Linked DNA regions of Homo sapiens. The protein of the gene in region 3 interacts with the protein of the main gene of each other region in a pairwise test. Each region holds a gene or a part of one and is shown on either strand. Other genes may lie near its edges.

The links.
Region 1: the proteins of MTMR1 (region 3) and ROR2 interact in a two-hybrid assay, tested with the Homo sapiens proteins (one study listed by BioGRID and IntAct).
Region 2: the proteins of MTMR1 (region 3) and PTK7 interact in a two-hybrid assay, tested with the Homo sapiens proteins (one study listed by BioGRID and IntAct).

Annotation. Positions count from the first base shown.
Region 1 is NC_000009.12:91,733,729-91,737,228, forward strand, and holds part of ROR2 (tyrosine-protein kinase transmembrane receptor ROR2 isoform 1 precursor), read right to left. Parts: intron 1-3,500. UniProt on the Homo sapiens protein: Tyrosine-protein kinase receptor which may be involved in the early formation of the chondrocytes. It seems to be required for cartilage and growth plate development. Phosphorylates YWHAB, leading to induction of osteogenesis and bone formation.
Region 2 is NC_000006.12:43,128,314-43,131,813, reverse strand, and holds part of PTK7 (inactive tyrosine-protein kinase 7 isoform a precursor), read right to left. Parts: intron 2,838-3,500; coding exon 2,550-2,837; intron 2,088-2,549; coding exon 1,985-2,087; intron 1,585-1,984; coding exon 1,394-1,584; intron 1,304-1,393; coding exon 1,153-1,303; intron 1-1,152. UniProt on the Homo sapiens protein: Inactive tyrosine kinase involved in Wnt signaling pathway. Component of both the non-canonical (also known as the Wnt/planar cell polarity signaling) and the canonical Wnt signaling pathway.
Region 3 is NC_000023.11:150,724,396-150,727,895, reverse strand, and holds part of MTMR1 (phosphatidylinositol-3-phosphate phosphatase MTMR1), read right to left. Parts: intron 682-3,500; coding exon 587-681; intron 213-586; coding exon 105-212; intron 1-104. UniProt on the Homo sapiens protein: Lipid phosphatase that specifically dephosphorylates the D-3 position of phosphatidylinositol 3-phosphate, generating phosphatidylinositol. Could also dephosphorylate phosphatidylinositol 3,5-bisphosphate to produce phosphatidylinositol 5-phosphate.

The DNA.
Region 1 (3,500 bases), on a different chromosome or scaffold from region 3:
CCCCTAGCTCACTCCGCTAGGTGCTTCTTCCAGGACAAGAGGGTTCAGACTTCAGATGCAAAAGCAGATCCTAAGGACCCGCCATGTGTGGAGAGCGCAGGCCAAGAAGTGCAGTACCGAGCCCCAGGCTTCCCAATGTCCCAGATCTGTCTGGGGAGAAGGCTGTCCCGGAAGAGGGAGTCAGCTCAGCTCTGTGAACTGCAGCTGGAGGAGACAGTTGGTAAAATGCGGAAAGCCAAGAGGGTGAGAGCAGCAAAGTGGGAGGAGAGCCGCGTTACAACTCTGGAAGGTTCTGTGATAAGGGGGAGCAGAAAAACCCGAAGATCCAGAGCCCCCTTTGGTAGGGCGGTTTGTTTTTTAAGGGCAAGATGTCAGAGGATGCAGTTTGGTGGTTAGAAGATGGGGTGAGTTCGGGAACAAAGTGGGGGTGTTGGGGAGAGATCTGCTGCACCTGGGGTGCATGGCTGGACACTGGTAAGGGTGAAGAAGCTGGCCAAGGCAGGGCTCTAAGGAATGCATCAGCCTGCCCTGGGCTCACTACCCCATTTTCACCTGTGAAAGGCTGGCTTACAACAATTGAGCTTGGGGACAGTGGAGGCAGACAGGCCCCTTTGCCTGCACACCCAGCAGAGGCTGTGTCCTCCAGCGTGGCAGAAAACCCAGAAGCTGGCATTTAGTCCCTGAGGAGCCCTAACTCCACCCACGAATGCAGTTCAATCCCATCATTACAGATTTGGCGATTATTTGGTGATTATACAGAGGGCTGTCAAGAATGCTGGCCTTGACCTCCAGGCAAGGAAAGCGTGTAAGTGCTGTGCCAGGTTTGGCCAGCAGGTGGCAGTGCCGCTGTCAGTCATTCCCTGGGAACCCACCCAGGAACGGGATGGGCAGCTGTGTGGGAACAGCCTTGTGCGTGATCACTTTGTGGTATCACTCATGCCTTTCCGGGCCTGTTTCTGTACCTGAAGAGTGATTTGAGACCCCACACTGGGGAATGAGAGTGCACACAGAGCCTATAAAGTGGCCCTCAGCGTGAATGGGCCCAGGGGTCTGGTAAAAGGCGGCGTCAGTGGGCGGGAGCAGCCACGCTGTCCTGATTGTGTGCAGGCACTACTGTGCTCATCACATCACCTCCCCTCCTCTGGGTTCCTGTGGCCGATATTTAAATGGAGGAACAGAGAGGGCAAGCAGTTACAGTACAGGATGTCTTGGATTTGGAGGAAGAACTGAGGCTTCAACCCTGTTCAATCCCATCATTACAGATTTGGGATTATATGGATGGCTGTCAAAAATGTAGGTAGGCCTTGACCTCCAGGCAGGGAAAGATTGTCTAAGAATGCCAAAGCTGTCACTTCTCTTGGGCTAATCCACTGATAGGATGTCTCTGCTGATCTTTATAGGATTTCTCTTTCTCCTTCTCCTCACCCTGAGAATGTACTGCTTATTTCTGAAAGTGCAATTCTAGGCACAAAGAGATCCAACAACTCACATCCTGTTATCTGTCCACACCCTGAATGTCACACAACACTTTCCAACACAACACTGCACACAACGCAGTCATTACTATGCTTATTTCAAAACCACAAGTCTGTTGAGAGCAACTTCAAATTTACTGTTTTCAAAAAGCCACCCACCTAGAAAATCTTCATTCTAAACTCTTCTCTAAAAGATGCTATAAAACCAGGCTGCTTGGATGCAAGCTGATTCCTTAAACAACTCCTGAAGAGATAACTGAGGGACAATCTTGTGCCCTGGATCAGTGCTTGCCAATTAGTAGGGTGTCTAATTAATTCTGAGAGTCTGCAGCTAGCATTTTAAAAGATGGTAAGAACAGACTAGAGGATGTCAGAATGCACGGTTCCTACTAAGGGCTCTAACTTTTTTTTTTTTTTTTTTTTTTTTTTTTTTTTTTTTTGAGACAGAGTCTTGCTCTGTCTCTGGGGCTGGAGTGCAGTGGCGCGATCTGCAACTTCCACCTCTCGGGTTTAAGTGATTCTTCTGCCTCAGCCTCCCAAGTAGCTGGGATTACAGGCACCCGCCACCATGCCCAGCTAATTTTTTGTGTTTTTAGTAGAGATGGGGTTTCACCATGTTGGTCAGGCTGGTCTTGAACTCCTGACCTCGTGATTTGCCCGCCTCAGCCTCCGAAAGTGCTAGGATTACAGGCGTGAGCCACCGTGCCCGGCCACTTTTTTATTTAATGAAATAAAACTGAAAAGAAAAATCCAAGTGCACCGCTTTTACGAAGGGTGAAAGTTATTCCCTGTAACCTATGTCAGTTGTGTGAAATACATGTATGTGTACACTAAGTCATGGCGTAAAGTATATTCTCTATTTTCCACTGTGTGTTTCGGTAAAAACCTTTGAGAAGTCCTACTTTAATGGCAAAGAAAGCTTTTGCAGTGAGAGGTAGCCATATTTTCAAAACCATCTCCCGCTGGAACAGGATGGCATCTCCAGGTTCCTCTCTGTCTCATGATGGCTCTTTCAGTTTGCACAGGACCCCCTGGCCCTGTCCTCAGAGGTCTCTGTACCAGCACATGGGCCAGGCAGTCTCTTCTGTGACCGTGAATGTGATGTTCGACTCTCTAGTCCGAGGGTGACCTGAACTTAGAAGGGCTTGTCAGTGACATGAGGTGACTTTCTGCCTTGGATCCTCATTGTCACCCCTTAACAGGTCAGTGCCCTGTATCCCCTTTGCCCCACCACACTCTCCCAGGAGCGCAGGCATCAGAGATCACCCACTGACTCTAATCTGCAGCAGAGCCTCCCGCTCCCATGGAGAGGATCCAACTAAACTGAGGTGCTGGGGCACCGGCCATCTGCACAGGATGTGTCTTGCTCCTTATGGGATCTGGAGAGAAAATGTGTATGTGTTTGTGGAGAGAGTAGAGACAGCAGGAGGAGGGCTCTGTAGGACTATTGTCTAATTAATTTTCTTCCTTTCCAAGGCCTTTCCCCTAAGAAGGACCCCGGACCCCATCAATGTGTTCGAGTTGTATGCTGGGAACTGGGACAGCCAATCAGAGAAGTTAAGTCCTAATGAGACCAAGGATGAGCAGCTGCAGTTCCTAATTGACTTGCCACTTTCTCAGACCCTGAACCAGGTACCCAAAGACGTGGCTTTGTTCTCTGGAAACCCAGGACTGACAAAGTGTGTGTTCACTGCAGCATCCCTACCACTGATGACCCGCGACTCTTTCCCCAAAACAGCTGCAATCAGGCCTGGGTGCCTTTGGACCAAACGTGGCTCAGAGAGGATAGAAGAGTCAGGAAGTACAGAATGAGAAGTCAAGCAGAGTGAGTGTGGGGGCGCTGAGGCTATCTGCGCCAGTGTGGCAGGCCCGGGGCAGGAGGCCCTGGCGTTGCAGTGAGGACAGTGCTTTGGACCCACACGGTTTGGCTGAGTTAAAAGTGCAGAAGTATATTCCAAGCAACCCACACTTGCTAATTTAAACATACAGGCCAGGAACATTTTTAGGGCAAATCATGTTAGCAAT
Region 2 (3,500 bases), on a different chromosome or scaffold from region 3:
AACTACAGGAGATCAGCTCGGGAAGCAATGAGGCAAATGGCAATGCAGGTGCGAGAGAGAGTGATATGGTTTGGCTGTGTCCCCACTCAAATCTCATCTTAAATTGTAGCTCCCATAATTCCCACATGTTGTGGGAGGGACCCAGTGGGAGGTAACTGAATCATGGGGGCAAGTCTTTCCCGTGCTGTTCTCATGATAGTGAACAAGTCTCACGAGATCTGATGGTTTTAAAATGAGGCATTCCCCTGCAGAAGCTCTCTCTCCTTTGCCTGCTGCCATCCATGTAAGACGTGACTTGGTCTTCCTTGCCTTCTGCCATGATTGTGAGGCTTGCCCAGCCATGTGGAACTGTAAGTCCAATTAAACCTCTTTCTTTTGTAAACTGCTCAGTCTCGGGTATGTCTTTATCAGCAGCATTAAAATGGACTAATACACAGAATAACCACCATGTGCAACTGTCAAGACAGGGAAGCCACCTTCCCACAGGGCCACGTTGATAGGGCACCCAGCTCCAGGGTCAGATACCCCTCAGCCATACCAGGCAGGCTACTGATGATGTCCTCAGGGCTGAAGCCAAGTGGCATCCAAGCCCCTAGCCTAGGAAGCCACACCCCCAAGGACCATGGTCGTGCCTGACACTGCAAAGGTGTTCTATGTTCTCCTAGGGTCCAGGCAAGAACAGAAGTCCCTGCAGTAGGGCTGGAACCTTCTAGAGGTGTTTGCTTCCTCTAAAAAGTGTGTGTGTGTGTGTGTGTGTGTGTGTGTGTGTGTGTGTGTGTGTGTGATGTCTTTGCCACACTGGATCACGCTATCTAGACTATGACCACCTGACTACCTAGGTCTCTTGTGTCTCTCTCATCCCTGGGGTCTCTACCCTTCCATCCCAGAAGACCCATGTGGGTGGTGGGGAGAGAGAAGTGGAACCATCACTAGCTCAGAGTGCCTTTGTGCAAACTGGAAAAGGGCTCTTCCCAGAGACTCTTCCCTGTGTCAGACTCATCTTGTAAAAGCAAAACATTCAACTGTGTCTCTTGGAAATTTGAAATAATACATGTACAAATCTGTGATGTCTGTGATACAAATCGCACCCCCTTCTACAGAATGCATGTGTGTGGTACATGGTACTGGAATGCTCCCAGCCAGATGCCTTACCGACTGCGGTTAGTGATGGGAGTCTCATCCTCAAAGAGCCACTGCAGGCTCGGGGGTGGCTGGGCTGAGAACTGGCAATGGAACATGGCCTCCTCATACCTCGCTACTACCACGTCCTGGGGTGCCAGCACCACCCTGGCAAAGCTTTCATCTGGAGAGGGAAAGATGGGGGAGCATGCAGCCTGGGTGGTGAGGCCCTCCTGTGCTCACCTCATCCCTTCCGCCCCCACCCCAGGCTCACCAGCAATGCTCAAGGTGAAGTTCTGGCTGCTGCAAGCCTGGCCAAAAGCACTGTGGGCGCAGCAGGAATACAGCCCACTATGCTCAGGACCAGCTGGCCGGAGCGTCAGGTTCCGCTCCTTGCTGCTGACTGTGTGGTTGCTCTGACCATCAGAAAGGGGGGTCCCATCTCGGAACCATTGGTAGGTGGGCCTGCAGGGCAGACACAGTCAGCAGTGGTGGGGAGGGGTACTCAGTGGCCAGTGGAGAGGATACAGTATCAGAGGGTCAGGGCTAGACCTTTCAGTTTATACATGGAGAAACGGCCTGAGGAAGGGAAGGGACTTGCAAAAGGGCACACAGTAATTCTGATTCAGGGGCAGAATCAAGTTGATATTAGATCTCCCAGCTCTACACACAATGTGGCTCACTCTTCAGGCCACCAGGGGCCGGCATAGGGCAATATCTGGGGGAGGGCAGGGTGAAGAGCACTGTGGTGGTGGAACGAGTGGTCACAGAATGGAGCGAGGTAACATCCGCATAGAGTCCAAGATTTGGGGAGACATCCCTGTCCGGAATAACCCTCTTCATCCCCACCTCCCTGACTCCTTACCGAGGGTGCCCATCAATGTGGCAACGAAGTGTGACCTGGGTCTGTGGCTGGATCTCAGCTTCCGAGGCTGGATGCTTCAGGACCACAGGACCTGCCTCAATCCCTGTAGCAGAGGCCACGGTTGCAGTGAGGGGCAGAGCAGGGCAAAGGCGGGAAGGCAGAGGGCAAGGAGGACAAGCAGGAAGCCGTGGAACCTCGAGGCTCTGTGCCAACAGACACAAGGAAGCCCTGGAGGCTGAGGCTGGGGCTACAGTTACCAGATACTAAGTGCCTGCCTGGTCCCTGGCAGGTCAAGTCTGACACTTGGCCAAGGGCTCGGCCGCCCTTTCCATTTGCACAAGCATGCAGCAGATAAATGGGTCCCAGACTTGAAGGAAAAAATTTTGGAAAAAATATAACTTTTAATTTCCTCTTATCCACATGAGCAAAAAAAGCTGATGATAAATGCATTCTGCCTGGCCCGTTTAACTGGAAATGGGAGAAGCTGAGGTAAGGGAGGGATCCCCCAGGCCTCAGTCATTGAGGGTCTGACAGGGGGACTGGGCACAGCCCCCCTGGCTCTCACATTTGATGTTGAAGGAGGCGTTGGCACTGCGGGCTTCTTCTCCAGTGACATCATCCCGAGCCACACACTGGAAGGTGCCAGAGTCCTGCAGCCGGTCCACAGCTGCAAAGCTCAGGCTGCTGCCCTGGGCGAAACGCCGCTCCGTGTCCTGGACAGGGGCCCCATCGAGCAGCCAGTACACATGTACCGGGCCCGGAGCCTCAACCTCACAGCGAAGCAGCGCCCGGCGCCCCTGCAGTGCATCCTGGGAGGACGGCTGCTTGATGAAGACAATGGCTGTCTGGGTACCTGTAGATGCAAACAGGGGAGAGGCAGGGTCAGGGGGAGCTGCAGCCTCTGTCCTAACACAGGCCACCTTGTGCACAGGAGGAAAGGGGCTGTGTACACAGGAGGCGTCCAGTAAGTGCAGGTGTGAAGGATCATGATGCCACAATTGCAAGAGTCCCCTGAAAAACTTTTCTTTTTCTTTTTGAGATTTCTTTTTCTTTTTTTGCTCTTGTCACCCAGGTTGGAATGTGGTGGTGTGATCTCAGCTCACTGCAACCTCCACCTCCTGGGTTCAAGTGATTCTTCTGCCTCAGCCTCTCGAGTAGCTGGGATTATAGGCATGAGCCACCACACCCAGCTAATTTTTGTATTTTTAGTAGAGACAGGGTTTCGCCATGTTGGCCAGGCTGGTCTCGAACCCCTGACCTCAGGTGATCTGCCCACCTCGGCCTCCCAAAGTGCTAGGATTACAGGCGTGAGCCACCACGCCCAGCCCCCTGAAGAGCTTTTCAACTGTGCTGAGTGCTCTGTAGGATACAAAGACACAGTAGCCTCTCCTCAAGAGGTCTGAAGACTAGAGGGGCACACAGAACACAGTTACAGTCACATAAATGCCAAATGAATGGGGTGGGCAGGCAGTAGTGACTTGAGCACGAAGGAAGAAGGGACCCCTAAGGGCTGGCT
Region 3 (3,500 bases):
CAGTACAAATTATTCTACTGTCCAAAGACCATGAAGAGACTGAGGGAGAAAAAGTTCAGAGCTGATTGCCCTCTTTTAGTTTTCACTTGGCGTTTCTATTATACCTTGCACACTATCTCTATACCACAGGAATTGTCTCCATGGCTCTGTGCTCCAATCTTCTCCACTCTGCTGATCACTCCAAGGGGAACATCAAGGATAAAATGCGGGTCCTAGGTTCAAAAATTAAGATCAATGCCTATTAGTGTCAGTCAACAGTTTTCATATTTTAAGTCTTTGCTGGGTTACAAAACATGTTTGTTTACTTCGCATTTCCTCTTTGTCCCAGCTAAATTGAAGTCTGATTGACAGCATTCCTTGTGAAATATATATTGAGACAACAATGGAATTTCCCCTCCAGGTTTAAGCGGTACTTTAACAGCCTTTGTTTTCAAGATACAAACATCTGTTTGCAAATGTGTGCATCTCAAAATCCAACCTGTGGTTATCTCAGGGTAATGGGATTTCAGGGGACTTTTTACTTTCTTCTTTTAGTGTTCTTTTAAAAGTGTTTCTTTTAAAATAAAACACACTTTAAAAAACTCACCCTCTCGACATTTTTGAAGTACAGCTTAAAGTCCGTCACTGTCAGGGTTCCACTCACTGCTCCCATAAATGGGCAGATATACATGACATCTTTCACTGAAAGAAAAAGGCCAAAGTAGCAACTACTGCCATAGACTTGTGCTTCCATAAAACTTAACACGAGTTTTCCAAATATATATTTGTGATTCCAGTTTTCCAGGAATTTTGTATTTTATAGGATTATATCAATTATGACTTTCAATATAGAGAGATGCATAGTCTTCTAATAAATTTCAATTTTTTAAAACAAAATTCTGATTTGCTACTTAATGAGGTTTTAAGTAAAGGGCCTCATAAGAAGTTATATTCTGTCATTTTTCCTAGGTAGTTAACATTTTCCCTGGGTGATAAATTAATCATATTCAAAACATTAATTAAACTCTGAAAACCCTGGGCTACTGTTTCATGAATTACTGCTACTTAAAACTAATGAAAACTAAAGATTGTCTCCTAATGCATCTCCAAAGGAAACTCTTTTTACAGAAGACAAAACCTAGAACCACATCAATGAAATGGAAAAAGACTTATTTCAAATTCCTTATCCCCTTATCAGTTTTAATTTTTTGTCAATATCTATTAAGTGCGTGACATATTTAATTCCCATTAGTGTTAAGAAGCTCACTTCTATCACAAAGATACCACATCTTCATGTTTTCCCAAAGTGCCATTCCACTGGAATGACAAGAATATACATAGCTATATATGAGTCCAAGTGAGACAACAAAAGGCATTAACGTCATTGAACCAAATTCTCAGAATACTTCCATTGAACTTTTCTATACTCCTTATGTACTGAGAGCCTTCTATTGCTGGGATTCTGGGTATAATTGGAAGAAGTTCCTGTCCATGAGCAGCCCATGACCTGTGAGAGATACCACACAGAAAAATCGCCATTATACTAGAGCAGAGGTCCCCAACCTTTTCGGCACCAGGGACTGGTTTCATGGAAGACAACTGTTCCATGGACCAGGGCAGAGGTAGGGGGATGGTTTCAGGATGAAACTGTTTCACCTCAGATTATCAGGCATTAGACCCTCATAAGGAACATACAACCTAGATTCCTCACATGCGCAATTCACAACAGGGTTCACGCTCCTGTGAGAATCTAATGCCACCGCTGATCCGACAGGAGACGGAGCTCAGGCGATAATGCTCACTAGCCCGCTGCTCACCTCCTGCTGTGCAGCCCCGTTCCTAACAGGCCATGGACCAGTGCTGATCCACGGCCCATGGGTTGGGGATCCCTGCACTAGAGGTTGACAAAAGCTAAAATAACAATGTGGACACAAAGTATTACAATGGAAGTTCAGAAAAGGATCAACTTAACTCAATAGGAAAGTGGGTAGGGGGAGTAAGAGAAGGAAGGGAGGAAGGGCACAGTGATAAGTTGTTAGAGGTTAGTATGCCTGGATCAATGGGTGCAGTGAGGACAGTCGAATATGAGGCCAGAGAAGTTGGCAGGGAGTGGATTGGCAAGTGCTTCTGTAGGAGACTAAGGCATTATTATCATTATCCTTAAAAGATAACTGTTTAAACAAAAACAAAAACAATATATTGTGGGGTTTATAACATATGTAAAAGTAAAATGGATGACAACAACAGCATAAAGGGTAGGAGGGGACAAATGGGAGTATACTACTATAAGGTTCTTATCCTGTACATGAAGCAGCATACAATCATTTGAAGGTAGACATAAAGATGTAAAATAACTAGTTACATAACAAAACAAACAATTATAGCTAATATGCAATCACAGGACATAAAATAGAATTCTAAAAAGTAAAAACCCCATAGTCTCGACCCAAAAGCTCCTTCAGCTGATAAACAACTTTGATAAAGTTTCAGGATACAAAATCAGCATACAAAAATCACTAGCATTCCTATACACTAACAACAGCCAGGCCAACAGCCAAATCAGGAATGCAATCCCATTCACAATAGCCACAAAAAGAATAAAATACCTAGGAATATGGCTACCCAGGGAGGTGAAAGATCTGTACAATGAGAATTACAAAATACTGCTCGAAGAAATTAGAGATGACATAAACAAATGGAAACACATTCCATGCTCATGGATAGGAACAATCAATATCGTGAAAATGGCCATACTGCCCAAAGCAATTTATAGATTCAATGCCATTCCTATCAAACTACCAATGACATTCCCAGAACTAGAAAAAAACTATTTAAAAATTCATATGGAACCAAAAAGAATAGCCAAGGCAATCCTAAGCAAAAAGAACAAAGCTGGAGGCATCATGTTACCAGACTTCAAACTATACTACAGGCCCACAGTAACCAAAACAGCATGGTACTGGTACAAAAACAGACACACATAGACAAGTGGAACAGAATAGAGCGCCCAGAAATAAGGGTGCACACCTACAACCCTCTGATCTTCAACAAAAGCAAGCAATAGGGAAAGAATTCCTTATTCAACAAATGGTGCTGGGATAATTAGCTAGCTATATGCAGATGACTGAAACTGGATCCCTTCCTTACACCATATACAAAAATCAATTCAAGATGGATTAGAGACCTAAATGTATAACCCAAATCTGTAAAAACCCTGGAAGACAACCTAGGCAGTACCATTCTGGACATAGGAACTGGCAAAGATTTCATGATAAAGATGCCAAAAGCAATCACAATAAAAGCAAAAGTTGACAAATGGAATCTAATGAAACTAAAGAGCTTCCGCACAGCAAAAGAAACTATCAACAAAGTAAACAGCCTACAGAATGGGAGAAAATATTTGCAAACTATGCATCTGACAAAGGTCTAATATCCAGCATCTATAAGGAATTTAACAAATTTACAAGAAAAAACACAAACAACCCCATTAAAAAGTGGGCAAAGGACAAGAATAGATACTT